Linked DNA regions of Homo sapiens: all the other regions are linked to region 4. Evidence: fine-mapped expression QTL. A gene starts in region 4. Each other region holds a variant in brackets. All regions are shown on one strand. Distances are between the middles of the regions. Region 1 overlaps LRRC20 (leucine rich repeat containing 20). Region 2 holds the start of TYSND1 (trypsin like peroxisomal matrix peptidase 1). Region 3 overlaps NPFFR1 (neuropeptide FF receptor 1). Region 4 holds the start of PPA1 (inorganic pyrophosphatase 1). Region 5 overlaps LRRC20 (leucine rich repeat containing 20). Region 6 overlaps LRRC20 (leucine rich repeat containing 20). Region 7 has its middle 9.5 kb from the start of SAR1A.

The links.
Region 1: its variant is fine-mapped to the expression of PPA1 in whole blood (INTERVAL, PIP above 0.99). The same link has a PIP of 0.9 or more in monocytes.
Region 2: its variant is fine-mapped to the expression of PPA1 in lung (TOPMed, PIP above 0.99).
Region 3: its variant is fine-mapped to the expression of PPA1 in adrenal gland (GTEx, PIP above 0.99). The same link has a PIP of 0.9 or more in ovary.
Region 5: its variant is fine-mapped to the expression of PPA1 in whole blood (TOPMed, PIP above 0.99).
Region 6: its variant is fine-mapped to the expression of PPA1 in blood mononuclear cells (TOPMed, PIP above 0.99). The same link has a PIP of 0.9 or more in monocytes and whole blood.
Region 7: its variant is fine-mapped to the expression of PPA1 in lung (TOPMed, PIP above 0.99). The same link has a PIP of 0.9 or more in tibial artery.

Annotation. Positions count from the first base shown.
Region 1 is chr10:70,368,868-70,373,068 of GRCh38, reverse strand. All of the region lies in intron 2 of LRRC20 (leucine rich repeat containing 20), which reads left to right. Among named protein-coding and RNA genes, the nearest start is that of LRRC20, 12 kb to the left of the region's middle. RefSeq lists an enhancer at 3,668-4,169. The variant TGTTGC/C (reference allele first, on the strand shown) is at 2,233.
Region 2 is chr10:70,144,254-70,148,253 of GRCh38, reverse strand. It overlaps TYSND1 (trypsin like peroxisomal matrix peptidase 1), which reads left to right and starts at 1,554. Exons shown (of 4, transcript NM_173555.4): 1 at 1,554-2,833. The coding sequence starts at 1,668. SAR1A (secretion associated Ras related GTPase 1A) reads left to right here. Exons shown (of 7, transcript NM_020150.5): 7 at 1-965. RefSeq lists silencers at 1,783-2,092, 2,423-2,652 and an enhancer at 2,243-2,292. The variant T/C (reference allele first, on the strand shown) is at 2,005.
Region 3 is chr10:70,255,506-70,259,686 of GRCh38, reverse strand. It overlaps NPFFR1 (neuropeptide FF receptor 1), which reads left to right. Exons shown (of 4, transcript NM_022146.5): 4 at 3,860-4,181. Among named protein-coding and RNA genes, the nearest start is that of PPA1, 24 kb to the right of the region's middle. The variant C/A (reference allele first, on the strand shown) is at 1,729.
Region 4 is chr10:70,231,171-70,235,371 of GRCh38, reverse strand. PPA1 (inorganic pyrophosphatase 1) reads left to right here and starts at 1,943. Exons shown (of 11, transcript NM_021129.4): 1 at 1,943-2,108. The coding sequence starts at 2,045. RefSeq lists a silencer at 1,732-2,301.
Region 5 is chr10:70,300,188-70,304,388 of GRCh38, reverse strand. It overlaps LRRC20 (leucine rich repeat containing 20), which reads left to right. Exons shown (of 5, transcript NM_001278212.2): 5 at 2,881-4,201. The coding sequence ends at 3,035. Among named protein-coding and RNA genes, the nearest start is that of NPFFR1, 18 kb to the right of the region's middle. The variant C/A (reference allele first, on the strand shown) is at 1,924.
Region 6 is chr10:70,353,387-70,357,587 of GRCh38, reverse strand. The region is part of intron 2 of LRRC20 (leucine rich repeat containing 20); the gene reads left to right. Among named protein-coding and RNA genes, the nearest start is that of LRRC20, 27 kb to the left of the region's middle. RefSeq lists enhancers at 1,713-1,922, 2,143-2,242. The variant G/A (reference allele first, on the strand shown) is at 2,039.
Region 7 is chr10:70,177,899-70,182,099 of GRCh38, reverse strand. No RefSeq gene overlaps it. Among named protein-coding and RNA genes, the nearest start is that of SAR1A, 9.5 kb to the right of the region's middle. The variant G/A (reference allele first, on the strand shown) is at 1,774.

The DNA of each region.
Region 1 (4,201 bases), 140 kb before region 4:
CACAATCTTGGCTCACTGCAACCTCCCTCTCCTGGGTTCAAGTGATTTTCCTTCAGCCTCCCAAGTAGCTGGGATTACAGGTGTGTGCCACCATGCCTGGCTTATTTTTCTATTTTTTTTTTTTTTTTAGTAGAGATGGGGTTTTGCCATGTTGGCCAAGCTGGTCTCGAACACCTGGCCTCAAGCGATCTACCTGCCTCAGCCTCCTAAAGTGCTGGGATTATAGGCATGAGCCACCACACCCGGCCTATATAATGCTATTTATGTAGCATCAACAATGGAGCGTAATATTTCATTGTATGATTAAATAAAGACTGGCACATTCTCGGCCGGGCGCAGTGGCTCACACCTTTAATCCCAGCACTTTGGGTGGCCGAGGCGGGCGGATCACAAGGTCAGGAGATCGAAACCATCCTGGCTAACATGGTGAAACCCCATCTCTACTAAAAATACAAAAAAATTAGCCGGGCGTGGTGGCGGGCACCTGTAGTCCCAGCTACTCGGGAGGCTGAGGCAGGAGAATGGTGTGAACCTGGGAGGTGGAGCCTGCAGTGAGCTGAGATTGCGCCACTGGACTCCAGCCTGGGTGACAGAGTGAGACTCCATCTCAAAAAAAAAAAAAACGAAAAGAAGGATTGGCACATTCTCATATATAACGTGAACTGGAAAACATCAAGAATGCCAAACTGTATGTAGGGTAAGGTACGAATTATGTTAAACCTGTGCATATATGTAGGAAAGAAAATGGAAGGAAATAACCAATATGGAAATGGGAGTTAGAAAATACTATTTTGCATTTTCTAAATGTTCTATAATGAACGTATTACTCTTAAAATTAGGGAACAGATTTTAGGGAAAGGACCACCTGCCACTGTGGAAATAAAACACACATCTTGACAACAGATGAGAGTTCAGGGGTAGCTCATTCTCAAAGCCGAGGCCCCTGGGAGGAGACATAGGCTTCCCTGGCTTTTCCCGTCCTGCTGGGTTCCCTCCCGGGGTGGTGCTCCAGAGCCACAGGTGCTGCTGCAGAGTGGGAGATCCCCTGTAGAGACTGGGCTGGAAGAGCTCAGTTACAGGCTTGCTCTCACCTTACTCAGCCAAGTAACCCTGGTAAGCACTTCACATGCTCCCCCAGTGCTCCTGGGGCACCCCTGGCTAGAGCTGGAGCCAGGCCTGCTTCCTCCTGTAACTCGAGGCGAGGATCCCAGCCTTTCTCACTCCACTCCAGGCTTCTCCATCCCCAGAGACGTGGGCTCCTTTCCATTTGGCCCCTGGGAGGCCCTCAGCTTGAGTTGAAGCTGCTTTCCTCCCAGTCTCTCACCCCTCCTCAGCATCATCTTCTCGATGTTTCTAAGGAGCATGCAGAGTTGCAAACTGCCCCTTAGGTAGTCTGCTTCCCCTGAGCCAGGCTCTCTTTCCCTGCCCCTTTTCCATCTGGGTTTCCGTGGGTCCTGGACCGCTGAGGGGCCTTAGTCTGACCCCACCCTTCCCTCCAGCCTGTGGTTGTGGGGCCAGGCTTCCCTGCACCCCGCTCCTCTCCGGGTCTTAGGCTCCTGGCTCTGCAGTGTGCATGGGGACTGGCTTTTAAAGAATAATCGTGACACAGAGGAGCAGGATTTGAAAAGGCCTGAGGCCCGAGACTCTACTACACACATCCCTGGGAGCCCCCAGGCACCTAGTACACAGCAGGTACTCAATACATGTTAACTGCTTATATTTTTGGTAGAGACCCTGTCTCTACCAAAAATAAAATTTAAAAAATTAGCCAGGTGCAGTGGCACACACCTGTAGTGTCAGCTACTTTGGGAGGTTGAGGCGAGAGGATTGCATGAGTCCTGGAGGTTGAGGCTGCGGTGAGCCATGATCGGGCCACTGCACTCCAGCCTGGGCGAGAAAAAGTTCTATTTAAAAAATCTGATATAATATACTCTAGTTTCTCTTCAGATCCAATAAATCTTTTGCTTCTTACTGAAAAAAAAAATCTGATTTAAGGGAATAATCTTATTTCTTTCTTATGCTCTATTTTTTATTTCTTTAATCATTTTAGAAACAAGGTCTTGCTCTGTCACCCAGGCTGGAGTGCAGTGGCGCAATCATAGTTCCCTGCAGCCTTGAATTCCTGGGCTCAAGTGATCCTCCCACCTCAGCCTTCCAAGTAGTTGAGACTACAGGCACTTGCTACTACACCGACTAATTTTTAAAATATTTTGTAGAGATGGGGTCTCACTG[TGTTGC/C]CTAGGCTGTTCTCAAACTCCTGGCCTCAAGCTATCCTCTTGTCTCAGCCTATACTTGTTTTAAATCTTTACTGCTTTTTCTTTTTTTTGAAATGGAGTCCCACTCTGTTGCCTAGGCTGGAGTGCAGTGGTGTGATCTCGGCTCACTGTAACCTCCACCTCCTGGGTTCGAGCAATTCTCCTGCCTCAGCCTCCCAAGTAGCTGGGGTTACAGGTGTGTGCCGCCACACCTGGTTAATTTTTAATTTTTGTACTTTTAGTATAGACAGGGTTTCATCATGTTAGCCAGGCTAGTCTTGAACTCCCAGCCTCAGCCTCCCGAAGTGCTAGGATTACAGGCTTGAGCCACCATGCCTGGCCTGCTTTTTCTGTAACAGGACATTCTTGAGGGTTTCAGTCTGTTGTTCCTGCTGACTCTTGCTCACAGTAGGTTATTCTGGGTGGACTTTATATAATATAATAATTTGGACCCTGTGCTCCTGTCTGGTGAACTATCATCTGTGTAATCCTGGGTCGCAGGGCTGTGTCCTCTGGAGGGGTCGTGATTGCTTTGGTCAGGTGCCTGAGTGTGACCAGCCTAGAAGCACGTCTTCTGTTAATGTCTCAGCCCTGAGGGCTTCTGTATATGAATTAAGGGCTGTGAATATTCAAATCCTAAGTATTAACAGGTCTGTGATTTCAGAATCTTAGTGGAGATTTTTGTTTTTTAACAATTCAGTGCCCAGGCAAAGACTAAACTGCTTGTTGTCTTATCAGGTAGTAGATTTTTATTATTTTATTATTTTTTATTATCAAGTAGTAGATTTGGCTCATTAGAGCCTCCACTTCTCAGGTTCAAGTGATTCTCCTGCCTCAGCTATCCCCAAAAATTAGCTGGGCACCTGCCACCATGCCCAGCTAACTTTTGTATATTTAGCAGAGATGGGGTTTCGCCATGTTGCCCAGGCTGGTCTCGAACTCCTGACCTCAAGTGATCCACCTGTTTCGGTCTCCCAAAGTGCTGGGATTCAGATTCTCTATTTTTGATCTTTTGGACTTGCCCTTATTAAATGCCAGGCATCGTGGTAAACAGTTTGCTGGTTTTAACTCATTTAATTCCCCATGACAACCCTATGACAAAGGTGATGTTAATACTCCCATTTTACAGATGAGGAAAGAAAGGTGTGAGAAACATCTTTTATCCAGTGTGTATGTATGGTTTTTTTTTTTTTTTTTTTTTTTTTTTTGAGACAGCGTCTTACTCTGTCACCCAGGCGCTGGAGTGCAGTGACACCATCTCGGCTCACGGCAATCTCTGCCTCCCAGGTTCAAGTATTTTATCTGATGTTTTTAAGTGTTTTGTTGTACAAGGGTATTCAACTTCCCTCCTCTCCTGCTTTGCTTTTGCAGTAGTTTTCCTCTGTTTTATAGCTGCTGGAGCTAGGCTGAGTGTAGGTGACCTGCTGGTGACACAGCTGTTTGGAGTGGGAGCAGAGTTCATAGGTCAGCCTAGGGCACAGCCCTGCTTTTCCCCATCCACCCTGCTGCCTGCCCCGAGGGATGGGGGTGGGGATGAGGAGGAGGGCTGAGAGAACTAAGCGAGGCCAATGATGTGAACCTCCCTCTTCCCGCCTTCTCCCACCCACACACCTGCCTCTCCTCCCAGGTCTTCTTGGAACCACAGTGAGCCCACCCTGTTCCTTGAAAAGGAGGAAAAAAAGCAGAGGTGAACATCTACCTTTGTATTTAAGATTTACATCATTGTTAGGCTGTCTTGAGTTAAAGAAACAATGGGGACAGCCCCCATGGACTGCTTTCATGGGCAAATGTCCCTCTGTCAGTTCCTTCACTCCTGCAGGATTTTCTGAAGGGTAGGTCCTGGGTAACCAACATCAGGATTGTAGGAGTACTGGTTAAAAATGCAGATTCAGGCCGGGCACGGTAGCTCACACCTGTAATCCTAGAACTTTGGGACGCTGAGGCGG
Region 2 (4,000 bases), 87 kb after region 4:
AGGCAGAAAGATTAGAGAATTTAAGTAGCAATTGTATATGGTAAGCAATACAGTAACCTTAATAAAAATTAATGATGGCCGGGTACGGTGGCTCACGCCTGTAATCCCAGCACTTTGGGAGGCCGAGGCGGGCGGATCACAAGGTCAGGAGATCGAGACCATCCTGGCTAACACGGTGAAACCCCGTCTCTACTAAAAATACAAAAAATTAGCTGGGCGTGGTGGCAGGCGCCTGTAGTCCCAGCGACTGGGGAGGCTGAGGCAGGAGAATAGCGTGAACCCAGGAGGCGGAGTTTGCAGTGAGCGGAGATCGCACCATTGCACTCCAGCCTGGGCGACAGAGCGAGACTCCGTCTCAAAAAAATAAATAAATAAATAAAAAATAATGTGTATTTTATCAATTCAGTGATAAAGCAGACCTTTGTAAACTGTCTAGCTTGTGGTGACTGATTGAGGGTATCATGAAGCTCCGCGCCCCCCCACTCCCCGACATACTCGTTCATCCTCCTCTGTCCTAAAGCGTACTTCTTTGGAAAAGTAGAGCAGTTTATGTTAGTGTACACTAGAGATGGTAAACTATGCCTTGTGGGTCAAATCGGGCCTGCTGCCTGTGTTTGTATGGCCTGTGAGCAAAGAAAGGTTTTTACATATTTAAATGGTTGGAAAAAATATTTAAAGAATGCTATTTTTGGACACAAAAAATTGTATGAAATTAAAATTTCAATGTCTGTATCTTTTTATTGGGACACAGCCACCGCCATTCCTTTAGCTTTTGTATGCAACAGCTGCAGAGTTGACTATTTGAGACAAGTTGTATGGTCCCCCCAAACTGGAACTGTTTCCATTCTGGCCTTCTACAGAAAGTATTTGGACCCTGGCCTAGATAAATCCTGGCTGGTGGTTATGTTATGTGAAATGTGCACACTGTAAAATATAGGCCTGTATGATTAAAATTTTTGATTTCAGCTACTGTTCATAGTCGATTTAAAGGGCAATTTAATTTACAGCAAATCCAGTTTCTCGGAGATTTGTGTTGGGGCTTTGGCAGCAAAAAAAAATCCTAGGAGTAATCTTGAGAGTTCCATGCCCCCTAGTGGATTGCTATAGGGTTTACTTTTAAATTTTCAAAACACTGAATTGGCCAAGGATTTCCTTGGTCCATATTATCCCAAGGGTCAGAGGCTGAAGGTCGCCTAGACCTGGGCAGATGCTCACAGGTACTGTCGTGGCCTGGGCAAATCTAGGCACGTCAGCGCTCATTTCTATTCCCTTTCCCACATTCCAGCAAACGAGACTAGGCTTGAAGGGACCCACCCTCCTCTCCTCTGATTCCTCGTGACGCCGCACTCCTCTTACTCTCCCCGGGGCTCATCCGGGGGAATGGGGCAGATTATGTCCCACCGGTTGGACAAACTAACGAGGGCGGGGAAAGGAAAAAAAAAATCAGAATAGGAAGCCAATCAGAGCTCGGTACAAGCCCAGCCAATCGGGTCGGGTCAATTGGGGCTTAGCCAATCGGGCTCGATGAGGAAGACGTGAGTCAGAGCTTGCGCCTCTCGCTTCCAGCTGTGGGTGGCGCTAGGCAGCTTCAGCCGGACCGGGTAGGGGTCCTCGCTCGCTAGCTTGCTGTTTCTCGGAGAAGCTCCCGAGTGTCCGGCCTAGAGGCCATGAGAAGGCAGTGGGGGTCTGCCATGAGGGCGGCCGAGCAGGCGGGCTGCATGGTGAGCGCCTCCCGGGCCGGACAGCCCGAGGCGGGCCCGTGGAGCTGCAGCGGGGTAATCCTGAGCCGTAGCCCGGGCCTGGTGCTTTGCCACGGGGGCATCTTCGTCCCCTTCCTGCGAGCTGGCAGCGAAGTCCTGACCGCGGCCGGCGCCGTCTTCCTGCCTGGCGACAGTTGCAGGGACGACCTGCGCCTGCACGTGCAGTGGGCCCCAACGGCCGCGGGTCCCGGGGGCGGCGCGGAGCGGGGCCGCCCAGGGCTGTGCACGCCCCAGTGCGCGAGCC[T/C]CGAGCCCGGCCCACCTGCCCCGTCCCGCGGGCGTCCCCTGCAGCCCCGGCTTCCTGCTGAGCTGCTGCTGCTGCTGAGCTGCCCGGCCTTCTGGGCCCACTTCGCGCGCCTCTTCGGGGACGAGGCAGCGGAACAGTGGCGCTTCTCGAGCGCGGCGCGGGATGACGAAGTGTCGGAGGACGAGGAGGCGGATCAACTGAGAGCGCTGGGCTGGTTTGCGCTGCTGGGCGTGCGGCTAGGCCAGGAGGAGGTGGAGGAGGAGCGCGGGCCAGCCATGGCGGTGTCGCCTCTCGGGGCCGTGCCCAAGGGTGCGCCATTGCTGGTCTGCGGCTCCCCTTTCGGCGCCTTCTGCCCCGACATCTTTCTCAACACGCTGAGCTGCGGGGTGCTCAGCAACGTGGCCGGCCCACTGCTGCTTACCGACGCACGCTGCCTGCCCGGCACCGAGGGCGGCGGCGTGTTCACCGCGCGGCCCGCGGGGGCGCTGGTGGCGCTGGTGGTGGCGCCGCTCTGTTGGAAGGCCGGCGAATGGGTGGGCTTCACGCTGCTCTGCGCCGCCGCCCCCCTTTTCCGCGCCGCCCGCGACGCGCTTCACCGCCTGCCGCACAGCACCGCTGCCCTGGCCGCCCTTCTGCCGCCAGAGGTGGGCGTCCCGTGGGGTCTGCCCCTCCGAGACTCCGGGCCCCTGTGGGCAGCCGCGGCAGTGTTGGTGGAGTGCGGCACCGTATGGGGCTCCGGAGTGGCTGTGGCACCCCGCCTTGTAGTGACCTGTCGGCACGTGTCCCCTCGGGAAGCAGCCAGGGTCCTGGTGCGCTCCACCACCCCCAAGTAAGCCCGCAGGGCTGACGCCACTTCATCCCTTTCCAGGTCTCAGATCTGGGTCCAGCCCTAATACTCTTGAGTATTGTGCAGGCCTTTCTTGTGTCACGCGGATGCTTTGGGCGTGTAGTGGGTAGAGACCTGGAACCCTCCCCTCATCCTTTATACCCAGAACCCCTGTGGGGAGAATCTGGGGCAAGGTGTCAAGCTCGAAGCAGCTCTGGATTTGGGTACTGTGGGACACCCTGAATCCGGAACAGGGCATCTTTGAGCTCCCCTCAAAGGCTGAGTTTCTTCTGGGCAGCTTCACTGTCTGATAGCCCTGCACGCCATACCCCTCGGTTCTCTGGCCCTTTGAACAGAGATTCCCTAACCCTGCTGCTTCTCCTCTGAAAGTGATAAGGTCCCAGAGGCCCAGGATGGTGCTCTCCTGGGGTAAGGAGATGGGTATGTTAATTTTATCCATCTTTTAGTGCTTAGCCAGAGCTTCCCGTCTGAGTGAAACGTGAGTTTCTACGTAATCAGAAGGTAGGGGGGTGGCCCACGCAGCTGTACATGGTTCAGCCCAGCCTTGCAGCCCAGGCTTTTCCAAATCTCTTCCTGAATCCCCAAGCTTAGCCAGGTGTGGGTAACACTGCCCAGTTTTGCCATAGGTGTCCCCACTGTGGCCTATAGGACAGCCATGACTTTATAGGGAAGACTGATGATGAAGGTTTGCCTATGGTGTGTGGCCCCCACCAGATTCCTTCCACTCCCCCCACATGCCCCTTGCTCCTAAGGAGACTGCCAGGTCTGTTGGAAGCTACCCCTGCAGAGTGTGTAGTAGGACGCCCCTGTCTGATCCCGGGCAAGTCACTTAACCTGTCTAAGCTGCCTCCCCGGGAGTTGACGCTGAATGTCGTGGAACGGAGCCTGTCACGTCGTGTGCTACAGAAGTGTTAGCGTGTACGTAAATAGGGACCCAGAGGAGTGAAACCATGTCATATCTGACCCACCAACTGACGGGATTGTTGTGGGTATCAACGAGGCAGTGAAGGAAAGTGTTGTGTTTGCCTTGGCTCCTCCCACTTTGTTTGGTGTTGGGAATGTTACTGAGCGTCTCTGGGCCTCAGTTATACCACCTAAAATGGAGATAATGCCAGTGCCTAGTTTATAGGGTCGTGAAGACTAAATAAA
Region 3 (4,181 bases), 24 kb before region 4:
ATATCTTAACCCTGCCCTTTGTGGAATCTAGTGTTCACATCCTCTCTCCACCTCAAGCCCAGTTTTTTGTAACTCAGTGAAGTAGGCAGCTGGAGTAATGAAGTGGGTTCTACTCTCCACAAGGCCACTAACTAGCTGGGTGATCAGGAGAAGTCCCTTCCCTTCATCGACCTTTGTTTTGTTATCATTGTTGAAGGAAATGAGAGTGTACAACTTCTCCCAGTGGTGTTTGCAGTATTCTTCAAGTCCCACCTCATCCAGGAAGCCTGCCCAGATTACCCCAAGATTCTCCTCCACCCATTTACTGCTATTGCATTCATAGCCAGCACTACAGGCTTTAAGAATTATTTATTCTCTGGAGATTTCTTTTTCTTTCTTTCTTTCTTTTTTTTTTTTGAGGGGGGAGACAGAGTCTTGCTCTGTCACCCAGGCTGGAGTGCCATGGCGATCTTGGCTGACTGCAACCTCTGCCTCCCGGGTTCAAGCCATTCTCGTGCCTCAGTCCCCGGAGTAGCTGGGATTGCAGGTGCGCACCACCATGCATGGCTAATTTTTGTCTTTTTAGTAGAGAAGGGTTTCACCATGTTGGCCAGGCTGGTCTCGAACTCCTGTCCTCAAGTGATCCACCCTCCTCAGCCTCCCAAAGTGCTGACATAAGCCACTATTCTCTGGAGCTTTCTTGAGTATGTGAAGTATGAAGCCAGTAGGTCAAAGTCATATAGGTTGAGATAACAAGGCCTGAGTCAGGCTGTGGGAGAGGTAAAAGGTCAGGCTATCAGGCCAAAAACTGGGTTGGCAGGAGGGCAGGACACAGTGTAGCGAAGTGGAAAGGACACTTGACTGAGAGTCAGCTCTAGACCTATGTTCCAGGGCAGGCTCTGACTCCAAACAGCCATGTGACCATAAGACCCCCACTGGGCAAGCTTTCCCCTCCATTAAACAAGTAAGATTGACTGGACATTCTTCAGGTTTCTATTTTCTGGCATCAGTAGATGACAGAAGCCATTCTGGGGAATAGGAGCCCCTCCTTTTTCCTCACTATTAAGCATTTGAAATGTCTCAAGAAGTGTGGTCAGTGTCATCTCACTTAATCTTCACAACTACCCAACAGAGTAGGTCATACTATGGGCTTCATTTTACAGATGAGGAAACTAAGGCTCAGAAAGTATTTTGAGTAACTTCCCCTCTGGTCATTCATGCATTTATCTAATCACAACCTAGGAATACTGAGATGAAAAGTCAAGGCATCTGCCCTCACAGAGCTTGCAGTTGAGCAATCGTCTTTGAACCATGCTGCAGGGGGAGGTTTTTACCTCCCCCTACAGCAGCTGTTTTCAACTCTGGTTGCACAGTAGACTTCTCCAGGAGCTTTTTTTTTTTTTGGAGACAAGGTCTTGCTCTATTGCCTTGGCTGGAGTGCAGTGGTCTGATCATGGCTCACTGCAGTCTCAGCCTCAACCTCCTGTGAAGGGGTGGCCTGCCTCTCCACACCTGTGGGTATTTCAAGTCGGGTGGGATGAGAGACTGAGAAAGAGAAATAAGACGCAGAGACAAAGTATAGAGAAACAACAGTGGGCCCAGGTGACCGGTGCTCTGCATACCAAGGACCTGCGCCGGCACCGGTCTCTGAGTTCCCTCAGTTTTTATTTATTATTATTTTCATTATTTCAGCAGAAAGGAATGTAGTAGGAGGGCAGGGTGATAATAAGGAGAAGGTCAGTAACAAAC[C/A]TGTGAGCAATAGAATCTATGTCATAATTAAGTTCAAGGGAAGGTACTGTGACTGGACGTGCACGTAAGCCAGATTTATGTTTCTCTCCACCCAAACATCTCAGTGGAGTAAAGAATAACAAGGCAGCACTGCTGCAAACATGTCTCACCTCCCACCATAGGGTGGTTTTTCTCTCATCTCAGAACTGAACAAATGTACAATAGGGTTTTATACTGAGACATTCAGTTCCCAGGGGCAGGCAGGAGACAGTGGCCTTCCTCTATCTCAACTGCAAGAGGCTTTCCTCTTTTACTAATCCACCTCAGCACAGACCCTTTACAGGTGTTGGGCTGGGGGACGGTCAGGTCTTTCTCATCCCATGAGGCCATATTTCAGACTATCATATGGGGAGAAACTTTGGACAATACCCTGCTTTCAAGGGCAGAGGTCCCCGCGGCTTTCCGCAGTGCATTGTGCCCCTAGTTTATTGACACTAGAGAATGGCGATGACTTTTACCAAGTATACTGTTTGTAAACATTTTGTTAACAAGGCATGTCCTGCACAGCCCTAGATCCCTTAAACCTTGATTTCATACAACACATGTTTTTGTGAGCTCCAGGTTGGGTCAAAATGGCTGGGGCAAAGTGGCTGGGGCAAAGCTACAAATTAACAACATCTCAGCAAAGCAATTGTTTAAAGTACAAGTCTTTTTCAAAATGGAGTCTCTTATGTCTTCCCTTTCTACACAGACACAATAACAGTCTGATTTCTCTTTCTTTTCCCTACACTCCTGGACTCAAGTGATTATCCTGCCTCAGCCTCCTGTGTAGCTGGAAGAATAGGCAAGCATCCCCTCATCTGGTTAATTTTTTTGGTAGAGATGGGGTTTCACCATGTTTCCCAGGCTGGTCTCCAACTCCTGGGTTCAAGTGATCCTCCTGCCTTGGCCTCCCAAAGTGCTGGGATTATAAGCATGAACCATGGCACCTGACCCCAGGAGCTTTAAAAACAAAAACAGCACATAACAAATAATGCTAAAACCACTTTCTAGACTAATTAGGTTGGAATCCTTGGCCTGAAAAAATAGGCACGGGTTTTGTCTTTGTTGTTGAAATGCTTCAGGAGAGTCTCATGCACATGGAGGGTTTACAGCTACTGGTTTATATGGCATATGAAGCAAGACAAATCTGGGTTCAAGACTGGTCCTTGCAACTTGCTATGTGAACTTGAGCCAACTGCTTAACACTCGAGTCCCAGTTTCCTTGTCTGTAAATCAACAGTGTAGTAACTATCTTAAAGGCCTCACCTTTAAAAAATAATAAAGGGTGTAATAACAGATGCTGAGTTGTCCTCATGAGGAAATAAATGGTGCAGACTTGTCCTTGCATTGTAGAGATACTGATACTATGGCCAAGATGACATAGGGACAGCCTGACATGTAGGCTCTACATCTGACCTCCTGAGGTTTTCTGGAGAATCCATAAACAGAAACTGTGTTATTTGACGCACCTAATCGTCCTTGTCGAGGACAGACTGCGCACTCTGATCGCTCTGCTAGCTGCCAGCTAATCAGTTGACCCCCAAAAGTACACAAATGGCCCCGCAAGGAGGCTCATATCTATAATCCCAGAAATTCGGGAGGCCGAGGCCGGAGGATAGCTTGAGCCCAAGACTTTGAGACTAGCCTGGGCAACACAGTGAGACCTCATCTCTCCAAAAATTGAAAGAAATTAGCCGGCGAGGTGGCAGCGCATTCCTGTGGTTCCAGCTACTCAGGAGGCTGAGGTGGGAGGAGAGGATCACTTGAGCCCGGGAGGTGGAGACTGCAGGGAGCCGTAATCGCGCCACTGCACTCCAGACTGGGCGACAGAAGGAGGCCCTGTCTCAGGAAAAAAAAAAAAAAAAGGAGAAAAGTGCAAAAGTGCACACAGGATTCATTGTTCCCACACGATCTGCGGTTTCCTCCTCCCTTCTCATAAATCCTGTAGCTGCCTTTGTTCTTTGACTACTCAGCCAATTCAGGTCTGAGCTGTTCTTCGACGCCGCCCTAGATGCGATGATGAAGGTCAGGTGCCCGCATCCCACCCACCGTCCCCTCGCAGGGGCCCTAGGACCCACCCAGATCCCGCCTGTCTCTCTCCCCGCGGCAGGTTCCGCTGCATCGTGCACCCTTTCCGCGAGAAGCTGACCCTGCGGAAGGCGCTCGTCACCATCGCCGTCATCTGGGCCCTGGCGCTGCTCATCATGTGTCCCTCGGCCGTCACGCTGACCGTCACCCGTGAGGAGCACCACTTCATGGTGGACGCCCGCAACCGCTCCTACCCGCTCTACTCCTGCTGGGAGGCCTGGCCCGAGAAGGGCATGCGCAGGGTCTACACCACTGTGCTCTTCTCGCACATCTACCTGGCGCCGCTGGCGCTCATCGTGGTCATGTACGCCCGCATCGCGCGCAAGCTCTGCCAGGCCCCGGGC
Region 4 (4,201 bases):
GGTGTTTTACCAGACCTGATAATGACTGGCTCTCTGAATACATTCGATGAAACAAGAGCCAGTGTGCAAGTCTGGAGGTCAGTGAGACTTTATTATCTTGCTCTGAGCTGGCAGGAGGCAAAGGGAAAGTGTATGTAGAACATTATTATTGCATCACTGCTGTCTTCTTAAGTCAGTCACAGATGAGAGTCTGGGTTTTTCCAAGAAAATTGGTTCCATCTGCTCAAAGGCAGAAAAGTGATAGAGCAGTTCAATCAAAAGAGCATCCCCTTAAAATATTCTTTGAACTTGATCCTACTTTTTTTTCTGAAACAGAGTCTCGCTCTGTCACCCAGGCTGGAATGCACTGGCGTGATCTCAACTCACCGCAACCTCCGCCTCTCGGGATCAAGTGTTCTCCTGCCTCAGTCTCCCGAGTAGCTGGGATTACAGGCGCGTGCAACCACGCCCAGCTAATTTTTGTATTTTTACTAGGGACAGGGTTTCACTGTGTTGGCCAGGCTGGTTTCCAACTCCTGACGTCGGGTAATCCGCCCACCTCGGCCTCCCAAAGTGCTGGGATTGAAGGCGTAAGTCACCGCGCCTGGCCTTGACCCTAATTATTGACTAAACTATTGCTTCGCTAATTTTTTTTCCTGCCCTTCTGTTTTAACAGCAGTAAAACAGTGTGGTGAAATGTTCAAAAAATCAGTGAATCACAGCCTTCTGAAAATTAATGGGTGTCAGTGAGGTTTGGGAGTTGGATGGAGACAAAGGGAGCGACACCATAACTAACTGGAGATCTTACTAGGTTTTCATTTAATATTCATTTTTTACAATAGACATTGTTTGGAAAAAAGGGTTTAATTCAAAATGTCATTAAGGCACATTATCTTTAATGTTCTAGAAAAAGTTATTTAAAGAAATCCTGGCCATGAAATTAAAATAAATAAATAAATAAAACCAGGCATTCTTTGAAATGTGAATAATAATTTGCTAATTTATATTTAGGATTGTGGATATACTTTTTTTCTTTTACATGTATTCCTGGGGAGGTAAGTGATGCAAATATTTTCCCACTGCCTCAATCAGACTTTAGTTTTTGGGGTCTGGCCTGATATGATGGAATATAAACAGGAAATCAAGATCAGAAGAGCCTGTCCCTGAGAACACTCCTTCACGGGACTCTAGCTCACGCCTGGACCTTCCCAGTGCTTCCATCTGAAGCCCCTGGAGACCCAGGTGGGTTAAGTAGGGTGGCAGGGGGGATGGAGGGGGCGGGGGGCGCGGGGGCGTAAATCCTCCCCCACTGGGGAGGGTGACAGTAACAACTTCCAGATTGTTTACAAAGATACAGGCTCTGCTTCAGGCATTTGACGTGTATTAACTCGGGTAATCATCCCAGTAACTCATGAAATAGTTATATTATTATCTTCACTTCCCAGATAAGCAACGGAGTGAGAGAGATTATAGAAAGTGGAGAAGCGAGTACCTTACTAGTAGCCACTAGGGGTGTCAGTAATATGGCTCAACTTTGTTACGACGGATCAGAAAAATGCTCACCTTTAAGACCGCAAGCAGAGCCTGTCTGGGGAAGCAGGTGACTTATCAACGCCTTTTGAGATAAGGAATAGGACTGCGGGGAGGAGTGTGTGAGAATCAAAGGTGAGTTCCCTGTGTGCGTGGTCGGCGGTCAACTCCTAGCTAGTCCAAGCTTAGAGCCTGCGCATTTGCCCTCCCGGGTCAGAGCCCAAAGCCGAAGGAACAGAACCAGCGCCGGCGGCAGCCACGTGGCCCAGCCTCTGAGCCCTAGCTGCCATCGCGGAGGCTGGGCCCGAGGGGCGGGGCTGGGGAGTGCGGACACCCGGGCCTGGCGGAGTGCGCCTGCGCACGGGGTTGGCCCGGCGGGGGTGGGAACACTAGCAGAGCCGCGTTAAAGGCGCTCCCCGCCCCGCCCGCCGGTCCAGTGCTCGCAGTGCGCAGGCGTGGGGCTCTCTCCTTGTCAGTCGGCGCCGCGTGCGGGCTGGTGGCTCTGTGGCAGCGGCGGCGGCAGGACTCCGGCACTATGAGCGGCTTCAGCACCGAGGAGCGCGCCGCGCCCTTCTCCCTGGAGTACCGAGTCTTCCTCAGTGAGTGTCTGCGGCCCGTGGCCCCTCCGCGCCCGTCCGCCCATTCATTCCCGGGCCTTGCCTCCCCGGGAGGGTGCGGCCCGCGCTCGGCCCCAGGTCTCCGACGCGGGCCCGTCTCCTCGGGCGCGTTGTGGGGCCTGGCCGGCCTCACATTGCATACTTGCCGCCGCCGGTCGGGGCGGCGAGGGTCGCCTCCGGCCATCCCTCCCCGCTGAACGGAGATGGTCCCTTTGTCACGCCTCGGGGTACCCGAACCTGGGCCCAGCTAGTTTTGCAGGTGTCTGGCTCTGACAGGGTCTGTTGGGAAAAGGAAATCACCGACCCACCCTAGAAAGGTGCTTGGAAGTAACATAATTCCCGTAAGAGGATTGCTCAGTTTGGAGAAAAGGCGACTCCGGGCCGGGGGGGGCAGTGACTTCCTAAAGACCTTAATTCCGCCGCCGTAGCTCAGATTATCGGCGCTGAGCGGAGCCAAGTCCACCCCCTCGTTTTACAGACGGGAAAACTGAGGCCCGGATCGGGAGCCGTCTGTGAAGGCGCTGGACCGGTCCTCCGCGGCCCGGTCGTGCTCCTGCCTCTGCGCCGCCTGTTTTCCCTCAGCGCCGATGCTGGGAATGCTCCTTATGAAACAGAAAGCTGTTTCCCTCAAATCAAACAGATGACGTCAGTCTGGAAACAAGACTGAGAAAGTGCCAAGTTTTTACCTTTGCAGGATTCGGCGTCTAGGGGGTACCTACCCCGGGTCCTGCACCTAGGGCTGCACGGGGAAACCGGGAGGCTGCATGCTGGCGCCCTCCACGCTCCTTAGGGCACCACGTTTTTTTGGCCTTGTAGGTGGAGGAAAGCTACTTGGGGTTTTTCTTTATCCTCTTACTCCCCCCACCCCCAGCTACTAGGAGTAGATTATGGGCGATAACGGAGGCGTTCGTAAATGTGTCACCACAGGCGCTTCTATTGTAACCTCTTTACAGTTTTATTTGGAAGGAAATGGGCAGGTGCCTCGAACTCTGAGTTGGTGTATGAAGGAAGGGGAAGCGGGGAGTAGAGGAGACGAATGAATAGGCATTGAAGGAACAAAAAGTAGCCTGGTGCGGGAGGAAAAGGAAAGCGAACTGTAAAGCTTACACATCTAGCCAAAGGTTAACTATCAGGTAAAATCCAGGAAGGGTGAGAACTACCCCCCACTCTCCATTTTATTTAATTTTGCAATTAAGCAGCAAGGACAGTCCAGTAACTTTTGACTAATAATTCATGGGACTGTTTTTCTGGAAATAGTGTTGGCTCCAGAATTTCTCTGTAGGAAAGGCTTACAGAGGTGACTGTCTGGTTTGAAGGTGAGGGGTGGATCTTCAAGCTATATATGCAGAACAAACACACTGCTTTTACTTAGGTTATTTATTTGCAATTAATATTTGGTGGCCGTTATGGGAGACCAAAGCTACTCCTAGAATTTGGCACTAGCTGAAGTAACTGTTTTTATCAAGTGGAACTCTCTGGAACTTAAGAAATACTAATAATTAGAACCCACTACATAGTTATCCAATTTTAAGTGCTTTATCCTTCCTTAATAGAAATAAACTTTTTTAAGCTTTATAATATTACATTTGTCAATTTCTTTAAAACTGATAAAGGGCTGGACAGACTGCAAAGTCACAATTGGCCCTAAAGGGACTTTTATGTTTTATTGTTTGTTTTTTGAAACAAAGTCTCGCTCTGTTGCCCAGGCTGGAGTGCAGTGGCATGATCTTGGCTCATTGCAACTTCAGCCTCCCGGGTTCAAGTGATTCTCCTGCCTCAGCCTCCCAAGTAGCTGGGATTACAGGCACTTGCCACCATGCCTGACTAATTTTTGTATTTTTAGTAGAGACGGGGTTTCACCATGTTGGCCAGGCTGGTCTTGAACTCCTTACCTCCAGTGATCCACCTGCTTTGGCCTTCCAAAGTGCTGGGATTACAGGCGTGAGCCACCGTGCCTGGCCTCCACTTTGATTTTTAAACTTGAAGGGATGCGATGTGGACAGTAGGTTTCCTAAAGAATACTGAAGAAGTTTTAAAATTACTTTTTGGCTATAGTTAGGCCTCTAGAATATATT
Region 5 (4,201 bases), 69 kb before region 4:
AATTAAACACAAAACAACCACAAAAACAAAAAGCCCCCAACCGTGGGCAATATTTTGTGCCTAGGAGAGGACAGGAGCTGGCTCTTGCCATCACTATCGGCCTGAGGTTGTGTCGGACTGCATGGGATGAGGTCTGGCCCCGTCCTGTGCTAGGGTGGGAGGTTTTCTGGGATCCGGCTGCTCACGGAATTGGATCGGGGAAGAGCGGATGCAGCCAGAGCCTCAGCTTGCACAGGGCACGCGTCGAGGGCAAGCGTCCTAGTGTTGTCTGAGTGATCCTAAAGGTTAGGTGGGAGGAACTATAACAGGTTACCAAGTGTTAGTATAGCTGCTGCCTTATTCTGGTCCTTTAAAAAAAAAACTGAGGCGAAATTCACATAACATAAAATTAACCACTTAAATTAACCACATAAAGTGTATAATTCATTGGCATTGAGGACATTCACAGTGTTGTGCAATCATCACCTCTATCTAATTCCAAAATACTTCTGTCACCCCAAAGGAGTCCCCATATCCTTTAAGCAGTTGCTCCCCAATTTAATTCTGTTTGAGGAAATATTAGTTATGTCCATTTTCAAGATTAGGAAAACAAGGTACGGGAAGTAATACAAATTTTTAGGTGGTAAAGCTGGGGCATCAGCTTAGGGCTGTCTTAAATTTCATGTCTATGACACTAGGCTGTGCTGCGTCTTCAGTTATAACTGAGAATATTGGACCTGGAATTAATTATAGATCACTACTATCTTTATATTTATTACACTGTGGCATTTTTGATGAGTGTTGGAAAATGCCCTAGTATCTTATGTAAGTTAGGTGGATGACAGCTTGAAACTTGATTTCCAAATTCTACACGTTAAATTTTGGAAACTAGAGCTGGGACAGGAGATATGTTTGTTTTGATTCCAGAGGACATTCCATCTCTAAGTGATGATCCAGCATAGTGATGATCCAATATAGTCTGGAACTTCCCAGATAGCTCTTATGGAGCAGTGATATAGGTAGGGCACATTATCAGGAGTCCTGATAAATTCAAACTGTAACTAACCTCCCTTAGATAGACCCAAGATAGTCATGTCTGCTTCTTTAGGGACTCTTTAGGGGTATGATGGAGCAGATGGCATGATAGAGTGGCATTCCCATAGTTAAGAAGAATTTCCATAGGCCACTGTATGCGACTTCCTCTCTCTTGGCAAAAATATTCTTTATGCACATAATAGTCTTTGTTTTTTAATAGTTTTATTGACACATACTATACAATTCACCCATTTAATATATGCAATTCGGTGGTTTTGGCATATTACATTATTTTTTAATTGTGATAAAATATATATAACAAAATGTGCCATTTTAACCTTTTTTTTTTCTTTTAAGAAATAGAGGGCCGGGCGCAGTGGCTCACGCCTGTAATCCCAGCACTTTGGGAGGCCGAGACGGGCGGATCACGAGGTCAGGAGATCGAGACCATCCTGGCTAACACGGTGAAACCCCGTCTCTACTAAAAATACAAAAAATTAGCTGGGCATGGTGGCGCGCGCCTGTAGTCCCAGCTACACGGGAGGCTGAGGCAGGAGAATGGCGTGAACCTGGGAGGCGGAGCTTGCAGTGAGTCGAGATCGCGCCACTGCACTCCAGCCTGGGCGACAGAGCGAAACTCCGTCTCAAAAAAAAAAAAAAAGAAATAGAGACTGGGGTCTCACTATGTTGCCCATCCTGACTTTGAACTCCTGGGCTCAAGAGATTCTCCTGCCTCAGCCTCCTGACTAGCTGAGACTATAGCCTGGCTGATTTTAACCATTTTTAAGCATACTGTAGCTCAGTGGCATTAATTACTTTCACCATGTTGCGCAACCATCACCGCTATCTATTTCCAAAATATTTTCATCACTCCAACAGAAACTGTAGCTATTAAGCAATAAATCCCTA[C/A]TTCCCCTTCTCCTAGCCCCTGGGAACCTCTGTTCTACTTTCTGTTTCTATGAATTCAACTACTCTATGTACCTCACATAAGTGGAGTCATACGGTATTTGTCTTTTTGTGCCTGCCTTCTTTCTTTAGCACAATATTTTCTCTTTTTTTTTTGAGACAGAGCTTTGCTTTGTCGCCCAGGCTGGAGTGCAGTGGTGCGATTTCCCCTCACTGCAACCTCCGCCTCGTGGGTTCAAGCAATTCTCTGCCACAGCCTCCCAAGTAGCTGGGATTACAAGCACCCACCACCATGCCCGGCTAATGTTTTTGTATTTTTAGTAGAGATGGGGTTTCACCAGCTTGGCCAGGCAGGTCTTGAAATCCTGACCTCGTGATCCACCCGCCTCACCCTCCCAAAGTGCTGGGATTACAGGCGTGAGCCACCACGACTGGCCTAGCACAATGTTTTCAAGGTTCATTCATGTTGTAACCTGTATCGGAATTGCGTTCCTTTAAAAGGCTACATAGTATTCCATATATCATATATATATGGACATATATATGGACAACATAGTATATATCATATTGTTTATCCATTCATCTATTGGTGGACATTTGACTATTATAAATAGTGCTGCTATGAACATTTGTGTAAAATTATTTGTTTGAATGCCTGTTTTTAATTCTTTCAGTTCTACCTAGGAGTAAAATTGCTGGGTTGTATGGCAATCCTACGTTTAACTTTTTGAAGCAGTTGATTCTTATTTTTAAGGATGCTTTCCTCCATGTGGTTGTTATATCCTGGTGGGCCCGATGGCCCTTTGCACAGGGCTGGGCACCAGGAGCTGAGCCCACGTGCAGTGGGCAATGGAGAGCTGCCCCTCACCATCAGGTGCTCAGAGTCCTCATGGCCCATTGTCCTTCTTTTCTGTCTGGTTGGCCTCCACCACTCTAACCTGTCCATTCTGTCCCCAATAGATGTGCCCGTGGAGAAGCTGGCCGCCATGCCAGCCTTGCGCAGCATCAACCTCCGCTTCAACCCACTCAACGCCGAGGTGCGCGTGATCGCCCCGCCGCTCATCAAGTTTGACATGCTCATGTCTCCGGAAGGCGCAAGAGCCCCCCTACCTTAGGCCACCCTCCTCATGCCCACCCAGCAAGGGGCAGAGGCCACAGGCCTGGAACCCTGGAAGGGAGGGAGGCCCATGGGAGGCCAAGCCTGGGGGCTGGGGGCGGGTGGGCCGAGCAGCACGTGGTGGGTGGGGTGCAGCTGGTCTGGATAGATAGCTTACAGCAGTAGTGGGCTCTGGAATGCCCAAGGGAAGAGGCAAGGTGGGGCCTGCAGCCTGGACTCGGCACTCACAGCTGCTGTGCAAACTCAGGCAGATCTCCTGCCCTCTCTGAGCCTTGTCACTTGAAAAAAACAGGACCCTTTCCCTCCTTTGGGCTCCCTGGAGGTTTTTAAGCAGTACGTGCCTCCAAGTTACCTCCAGATCAGCAGGCACAGGTGGGCATTGCCAGGTATTTTCTGAGCCCCTGCGGGTTTGAGGCCTTGTTTTTAGTGCTGAGAGCCAGTTGCTGCCCTGAGAAGAGAAGACAACCTCCATCTATTTATTGCTTCCTGAGAACTGACCTGGATGCGGCCCTCTGCAGGGCCCAGTCTTCAGTCCTGTGGTCCCTGGACTGGTGGGAACCTGAACTAGGAGTCCTGGGAGAGCTGTGGTGGGAATATGGGCTGGCACTGCTGCAGGGCAAGAACATTCATGTAGGAGCCCGAGGACCAGCAGGCTGGGAATGGGGAGCAAGTCACGTCAGCTCTGTCATTCCCCACAGTTAACAAATTGGCGGGGTGGGAAGTCCTGAGTGCTCCGTCCCTCTAGCATCACTCCTGAGCTGCGGGAGAGGTGGCCCAGAGAACAGCAGAGTCAGTTACACCTGCAGCTCTTGTCTAAAGTGATTAGATGGCCACCCTCACCACTGTCCAGTCCAGCAGCAGCCTGGCTGCCTTGTCATGGCCTCCTGGGGGCAGAAGGCGATGTGGACCACGGGATTTGTAGCCAGCCAGCTCCCAGGCCAACGCCCAAAGCCCTGATGACCTGGTTCTTCTGAGGCCCTCAACCTGGCATCTTAGGGTATGGTCAGGCAACAGGGTGACCAGCTGTCCTGGTTTCCCAGGACATGGAACTTTCAATGCTAAAACTGGGACAGTACCCAGCAAGTGGGGATGGTTGGTCCCCTACCAGGAGAGGGCCTGGGGCTCTTGCTTCCCGAGAACGCCTGTGGCTTGAAGAACCTTGAC
Region 6 (4,201 bases), 120 kb before region 4:
CAATCCAGAGGTCATTTCTCTCCTCCAGGGATGACAGAGCTGAAGCACATCTTTGTCAGATTCTCAAATAAAAGTAATACTTTTGCATCCTCATAGCAGCATCTCTTACTTACTGAGCACAAACTACCTGCCAGGCACTGTGCTAAGAGCCTTGCAGACGTTTTATTTCATGCTCAGAACCACCTGTTCGTTGGATCCTGTTGTCCTCATTTCTTTTTGAGGTATATTCAAATACTGTAACGTTTACATTTTAAAATATACAATGCAGTATTTATTTGTATATTCACAAGATTGTATAACCATCACTGCTGTCTAATTCTAAGCCATTTTCATCACCCAAAAAAGAAACCCTGTACCATGCGGAGTCCTTTCCCATTTCCTGATCTCCGCCCAGCCCCAGGCCATTACCAGTCTACTTTCTGTCTCTATAGATTGCCTCTTCTGGACATTTTATGTAAATGGAATCATGCAACATTTGTCCTTTTGTGACTGGCTTCCTTCACATAGCAAAATGTTTTCAAGGTTCATTCATGTTGCAGCCCATGTCAGGATTTCATTCCTTTTTATGGCTGAATAATATTCCATTGAATGGATATATGACATGTCCTTTATCTGTTCATCAGCTGATGGACATTTGGATTGTCTCCACTTTTCAACTATTGTGAAAATGCTGCTGTGAACATTTATATACAGGTGTTTTTTTTTGTTTTGCTTTGTTTTTTGTTTTGTTTTGTTTTGAGGTGGAGTCTCATTCTGTTGCCCAGGCTGGAGTGCAGTGGCGCGATCTTGGCTCACTGCAACCTCCGCCTCCTGGGTTCAAGCAATTCTTCTGCCTCAGCCTCCTGAGTAGCTGTGACTACAGGCACCTGCCACCACACCCTGCTAATTTTTGTATTTTTAGTAGAGACGGGGTTTCACCATATTGGCCAGGCTGGTCTCAAACTCCTAACCTCGTGATCTGCCCGCCTCGGCCTCCCAAAGTGCTGGGATTACAGGTGTGAGCTACTCTGCCCAGCACTACATACAGGTTTTAAAACTTTATTTATTTGTTTTTATTTTTTTGAGACAAAGTCTCAAAAGGTCTGGCTCTGTTGCCCAGGCTGGGGTGCAGTGGCATGATCTTGGCTCACTGCAACCTCTGCCTCCCAAGCTCAAGCGATCCTCCCACCACAGCCTCCCAAGTAGCTAGCTGGGACTACAGGCATGCACTACCACACCCAGCTACTTTTTGTATTTTTTATAGAACCAGGGTTTTACTGTGTTGCCCAGGATGGTCTTGAACTCTTGAACTTAAGTGATCCTCCCACCTTGGCCTCCCAAAGTGCTTGGGTTACGGGCGTGAGCCACCATGCCCAGATTGCATACAGGTTTTTGAAAGAGCTCTTGTCCTCACTTTACTGAAGAAGAAACTGAGATTGGAGTTAAGTAACTTGCCTGAGGTCCCACAGCAAGAAAGAGTTGGCCCAAGAAAGGATTCAATTTGGATTCTGAGAAGAAGATATTGCTTTCTAGGTCTCTTGTGTGGTTAGAAGTTATTCTGACTGAGTATGATAGCCACTGGCTGGAGGGCCTCATGCTCAGCTTTCTTCTCTGAGGCCAACTCTCTGTAGCACATTATTTCCTAGAGAGGCAGGGGCTTCTGCAGCAGGACGTGAGAAGGCACCTCTGAGATGCAGGATTCGTGTGTGCGTTTGTCAGAGGGGTGTCCACACAGCCCTCTGAGCGTGCGGCTGCTCTCCCCAGCAGCTCCCGTGAGCTTTGCCCTGGCAGGACTTTAGCTCTGTTCCCTATGTCCCCATCAACACCCATCTCCACTGATCCAGGTTTTTGGGCGTTTGAGGAAAAACATACCCCAAGGGTCACTGCATGTTGGGGATGTTCCTTTCTTTAAACTGGAGATATTTGTAAGAAGTCATTAAGTGCTTGTAAAACTCTTGCACAATATACAAGTCCATGAAATAGGAAGTGAAAGAAAAAAATCCCCCTAAACCCACTGGCACTTTCAAGTTGAGTGGTTTCCCCACGTCTCAGAAGACGC[G/A]CCTTCCCGAAGTGCCTTTCTGCCCTTCTCTTCCCGACAACCCTCCCGGGCCCAGTAGCTGTGTGTGCTATTGCGGTGGGACTTTCTGGACGTATGTGGTCCTCGGTGAGCTCTTCCTCCCATGCCCTTTTCTCTATAAGGGGCATGAGACAGGAAACAGGCTCAGAAACATTGCTCTAGAGATCGGGAGTAAAACACCCCCAAAGACCTGAAAGTGGTTGTCCCTGGGGGAGGGGATTTGTCAAGAGGGAGCAAGTCCGGCTGCTTTTTGTCTTAAGCCTTTTAGAGCCAGCCAGCTCTGTAAGCACTACAACAAACAGCTTTGTTAAAGTGATGCCTAATTGTGCCCAGTGATGCACGGCACGATCCCTTGATGAGCAGTTGTTTTGCTCGCTGTCTGCATCCTGTGTGTCCCTACTTTGGAAATTGAGTGACATTTCAGAGACTGGCAGCTCAAGTCATGGGGGGCTCCTGTTTGACAGAGGGCTGTCTGAAGAGCCTTTGTTTAGTAGAATCATGGAGTCAGAGGATGTCTGGTCTGGTTGAGACCCCAAATCATCTAGTCCAAACCCTCATTTTACAGATGAGGGGACAAGGCCCATGAAGAAGTAGTGTCTCTGAGCTCCCCCTGGCTGATAGTGGAGGGGCTGGGATAAGAATTAGGCCTCCTGAGTTACAGCCCAGGGCGGCCTCCACACCGAGGGTCACGTGTGCCTCTGAGTACCAGAAGCATGAACAAAGCGAGAGAAGAGAGTGAAGAGACTCTGTCTCTGCTGCTCTGTCCTGAAATAGTCTGCTCAGAGGGGAAGCAGGAGGAACCCAGGGCACAAAAAATTTCCATGAGCGTGTAAACCTCATGCCCTTAGGCAGGCAGGAGCAGCCAGCACTCAGTTACTGTCATTACCACCCCATTATCATCATCAATACAGGAAGCAGCTACATCAGGAGGAGGCCTGGCCCCTCTAGGCCAGTGATGCTTCAGCTAAAACACAGATGCCTGGGCCTTACCCCCAGAGTTTCTGATTCTGTGGGACTGGGGTGGTGCCTGAGAATGTGCCTTTCTGACAAGTTCTGGGGTGATGCTAATGCTGTGGGTGATGCTGATGCCCTTGGAGAACCACTGCACTGGAGTAGCCCTTGCTACTTAGTGTGGTCCTTGGACCTGCTGGGTGGAAATGCAGACTCTTACGCCCCACCTAGACATGTGGCATCAGAATCTGCACGTTGGCAGTGTCCCCAGGTGTCACACTTTAGTTTGAGAGGTGATGGTATGGTGCAGAGTTCACCTGGCTGCACGTTAGAGTCACCCAGGGAGCTTTTACCCTCCCTTCCATTCCCAAGCCCCAGCCCCCACTAATTAAATCAGACTCTCTGGGAGAGAGACTTAGGCATCAAGAGTCTATAGAGCTCCCAAGGTGGCTCCTGGTTGTGGCCAAGTCCTAGAATCCACAGTGGCAGCTGCAAGGGGCCTTGGAGATGATCAGTTGCAATTTACCAAGATTTGAAAACTAAGGGCATAAGGACCCAAGGTCCCACAGACAGTAAGTGACAAATCCAGGCTGTTGATACCCTGATGACTCTTTCACCAGCTCTTTCAACTCTAAGTCCCCTTTTATATAGTTCCATGGGAACTGCAATATACTAGTGTTCCCAGGGAACCCATTGTAAATCATGGAAGATCTATCTGCTCATTGGAAACCCACCACCTCCCAATCTGTTTCAGCATGGCAGGCTGTCCTGAATGCGGGTTACATATTCTAGGGAGGCAGTGTAGCATGGTGGTTAGGAGCAAACCCTTAAGCTCAGCAGCTTACTAACCAAGACTCCTGGCTCTGTGTCTTGATTCCTCCTCTGTACAACAGGAATAGTAATAATAGTGCCCATCTCATGGATCATCTGAGGTCAGGAGTTCGAGACCAGCCTGGCCAACATGGTGAAACCCCTTCTCTACTAAAAATACAAAAATTAGTTGGGCGTGGTGGTGCATGCCTGTAGTCCCAGCTACTCAGGAGGCTGAGGCAGGAGACTCACTTGAACCCAGGAGGCGGAGGTTGCAGTGAGCCGAGATTACACCACTGCACTCCAGCCTGGGTGACAGAGTGAGACTCTGTCTCAAAAAAATAAAAAATACAAAATAGTGCCTGTCTCATGGGGATGTTGTGA
Region 7 (4,201 bases), 53 kb after region 4:
ATTCTCCTGTCTCAGCCTCCCGAGTAGCTGGGATTATAGGCATGTGCCACCACATCTGGCTAATTTTGTATTTTTTTAGTAGAGATGGGGTTTCTCCATGTTAGTCAGGCTGGTCTCGAACTCCTGACCTCAGGTGATCCACCCGCCTTGGTCTCCCAAAGTGCTGGAATTACAGGCGTGAGCCACTGCACCTGACCCAGATTTCCTTAGTTTTTTACCTAATGTCTTTTAATGTGTTGAGATACCATACTCTATTTATTTATTTGAGATGGAGTCTTGCTGTGTCACCCAGGCTGTAGTGCAATGGCACAATCTTTGGCTCACTGCAACCTCCGCCTCCTGGGTTCAAGTGATTATTTTGCCTCAGCCTCCCAAGTAGCTGGGATTATAGGTGTATGCCACCACACCTGGCTAATTTTGTATTTTTAGTAGAGATGGAGTTTCACCATGTTGGTCAGGTTGGTCTCGAACTCCTGACCTCAGGTGATCTGCCCGCCTCAGCCTCCCAAACTGCTGGGATTACAGGCATGAGCTACTGTGCCAGGCTGAGATACCATACTATATTTAGTTGTCCTATCTCCTATTTTCTTCTTAGTGGTTACTATTTCTTAGACTTTCCTTTTTTTTTTTTTTGAGACAGAGTTTCACTCTTGTTGCCCAGGCTAGAGTGTGCAATGGCACAATTTTGGCTCACTGCAACCTCCGCTCCTGGGTTCAAGCGATTCTCCTGCCTCAGCCTCCCAAGTAGCTGGGATTACAGTCATGTGCCACCATGCCTGGCTAATTTTTTGTATTTAGTAGAGAGGGGGTTTCACTATGTTGGCCGGGCTGGTCTTGAAATCCTGACCTCAGGCGATCCACCCGCCTTGGTCTCCCAAAGTGCTGGGATTACAGGCGTGAGCCAGCGCACCTGGCCGCTTTCCTCATTTTTGATGACTCTATCTTTGAGGAGTATGGTCAGGTATTTTATAGAACATCTCTCAGTTGAGATTTGTCTGATATTTTTCTCATGATTAGACTGGGGATATGTGTTGGGAGGAGGAAGATCATACGAATAAAGTGATATTCTCATCATATCATATGAAGGGCATGTACTATCAACATGGCATATCACTGGAGGTGTTAAACTTCATCACCTGGCTGAGATTGTGATTGTCATGTTTCTCTGCTGTAATTATATTCTCCCCCTCATCCCCTTTCCACACTGTTCTCTTTAGAAGGATGTCACTGTGTGTAGCCCAGACATGATGGGGAGTTACACTCCACCTCCTTGAGGGTAGACTATTTACCTTAATTATTTGGAATTCTTCTCCATGGAAGATATGTCTGTTCTTCTTCATTTATCTATTTATTGTTTCTTTGTTTTTGAGACAGGGTCTTGCTTTGTCACCTAGGCTGGAGTGCAGTGCCCTGATTATAGCTAACTGCAGCCTGGACCTCTTGGGCTCAAGCAATCCTCTCAACTCAGCCTCCAGACTAGCTAGGACTACAGGTTCACACCATCATGCCTGGCTAATTTTTTAAGTTTTTTGTAGTCATGGGATCTTGCTGTGTTGCCCAGGCTTTCTCAAACTCCTGGCCTCAAGCAGTCCTCCTACCTTGGACTCCCAAAATGCTGGGATTACACATGTGAGCCAGCATGCCCAGCTATCTATTCAGTCAATTATTTATTTATGTCCATATGGACTCATGGATATCTATCTTATACTTTAGGTTCTAATCCAAAGCTATTTTAAAATTTATTTTGTTGCTTAAATTATGCCAGCTTTGGCC[G/A]CTGGGAGCTCTTTCAGTTGCTTGTCTCATTGATCCCCTCATTCTGGGTGTTTTTTGGATATGGGGATACTTCTATACTTTTTGGCACAAGGTGTTCCAGGCTCATCTTGTATATTCCCTGCCCCAGCCCTAGAATCAGTCATTTTCCCAAGAAGCCCTGGTTCCTTTCCTTGGAGAATGGTATTAGAAACCAAGATCTGGGCACTAGGGTGCTCACTGCTACTGAGTTGTTGTTGTTTCTATGCCTTCTCAGCTGACATAGCAAGGAAATATATATGTGTATATTGACATATATATAAACATATCTATAAATACATTTCTGTCTATATCACACTAAGCATGAATTCATACTGATATCTCCAACTCCAATCCATTACTACATGGATCATTGTAGCCTCTTCTCTCCTCGCTTATCTATAACCTCACACTCCAACAGTGAGTTTTCACCTGCTCCCATCATCCACCATCCATTTGCTTAATTGGTAAATTCCAGTATACATAGGGGTTTCCAAATTTTATAATGGTTTCCAAATTGTTGGCCTTTACAAACCCTGTGGGAAACAACCTGATCAACTGGAATATAGTGTTTATGTGTATTCCTTTTGCCTTTAGTCTTACAGACTTCAGTCATTTCCAAAGTGACTTAGTTCAGCACCTTTTCTGCCTACCTGCTTCAGTAAGGTTGTTCATACATTTATAATATAGTTTTTTTTTCTCAGATTCTGCATCTTTTCTAGGATCCCCTGATCTCTAAAGGATTTTTTAAAATTTGCATATGTTAAAGTTCAATCTTTGTCCTATAATGGACTATGGCTTTTGACAAATGCATCGTGTCATGTATTCACTATTGTTTTATTTATGTATTTATTTAGACAGAGTCCTGCTCTGTCATCAGGCTGGAGTGCAGTGACGCAATCTTGGCTCACCGCAACCTCTGCCTCCTGGGTTCAAGCGATTCTCCTGCCTCAGACTCCCAAGTAGCTGGGACTATAGGCGTGTGCCACCATGCCCAGCTGATTTTTGTATTTTAGTAGAGATGCGGTTTCACCATGTTGGCCAGGACGGTCTCTATCTTTTGACCTCAGGATCCACCTGCCTCGGCCTCCCAAAGTGCTGGGATTACAGGCATGAGCCACCGTGCCCAGCCTGTTTATTTTTTAAATTACACAAATACTAGTATGTTAAAAAATTTCAGCCAGGTATAGTGGCTCATGCTTGTAATCCCAGCAGTTATGGAGGCCGAGATGGGAGGATCCCCTGAGCCCAGGAGTTCGAGACCATCCTGTGCAATATAGTGAGAACTCACCTCTACAAAAGATTAAAATACATTTTTAAAAATTTCAAAAATACAGATAAAAAAATTCTATCTTGATTGCTGTTAATCCCACTCCCTTCTTATAAACACTGTTATCAGTTTGATAAAAATCTCTCTAGATTTTTCTCTATGTCTTTATACACATATTTGAACATATGTAAAAGTATAATTTTGTGTGTGTGTTTTTTGAAGAGGCATAAGATTATACTTTGTATACATTTTGAAATCTCATGTTATTACTTTGTCAGTATACCTAATTCTTTTAAACTGGTATAAAGATAATAGGGATGTACTGTTGAACACGAATGCTTAATCCACTCCATGTGATATGTTCCAGAACCCTAGTGTATTCTAGAAAGCTGGGACATTGGGTACAAGTTGGAGAACAGAAGAAGGGCAGGCAAGAAAAGAAGCAGGAGCCTCATGCTTAACAAAGGCTCTGTGCTCCCCTGCTAAGGAGATCCTGGACTTTAAAGAGGCCCTGAAGAGGCATCAAGAGTTTTTAAAATTAGAAAGGAATATGGTTTTATTTCTGTAATGGGTACGGAAGAATTTTAAGGAATGTTAGTTATGTGGAATGCTGTTTGATAACATATCCACTTTTTACCCTTAAACTCTTCTTATCAGAAAATATTCAAGTGTATTTCTTGAGTGTATGACTGCTCTATAAATACTGGAGTAGCCATGGTATGACACGCCATTTGGACACCTTCATCTTCTCAGCTATTTATTGGGTGGCACCATAGGAGCAGTAAAGGAGACTACAAAGCAGTGTAGTTATTTATTTATTTATTTATGTATTTATTTTGAGATGGGGTCTGGCTCTGTCGCCCAGGCTGGAGTTCAGTGGAGTGATCCCAGCTCACTGCAACCTCCACCTCCCGGGCTCAAGCCATCCTCCTACCTTAGCTTCCCGAGTAGCTGGTACTGCAAGGTGCACACCACCACACCCAGCTAATTTTTGTGTTTTTTGTAAAGATTGGGTTTTGTCATGTCGCCCAGGCTAGTCTTGAACTTCTGAGCTCAAGTGAGCTGCCTGCCTCAACCTCCCAAAGTGCTGGGATTACAGACGTGAGCCACTGCACCTGGCCCAGTGTGGTGATTCTTAAAGCA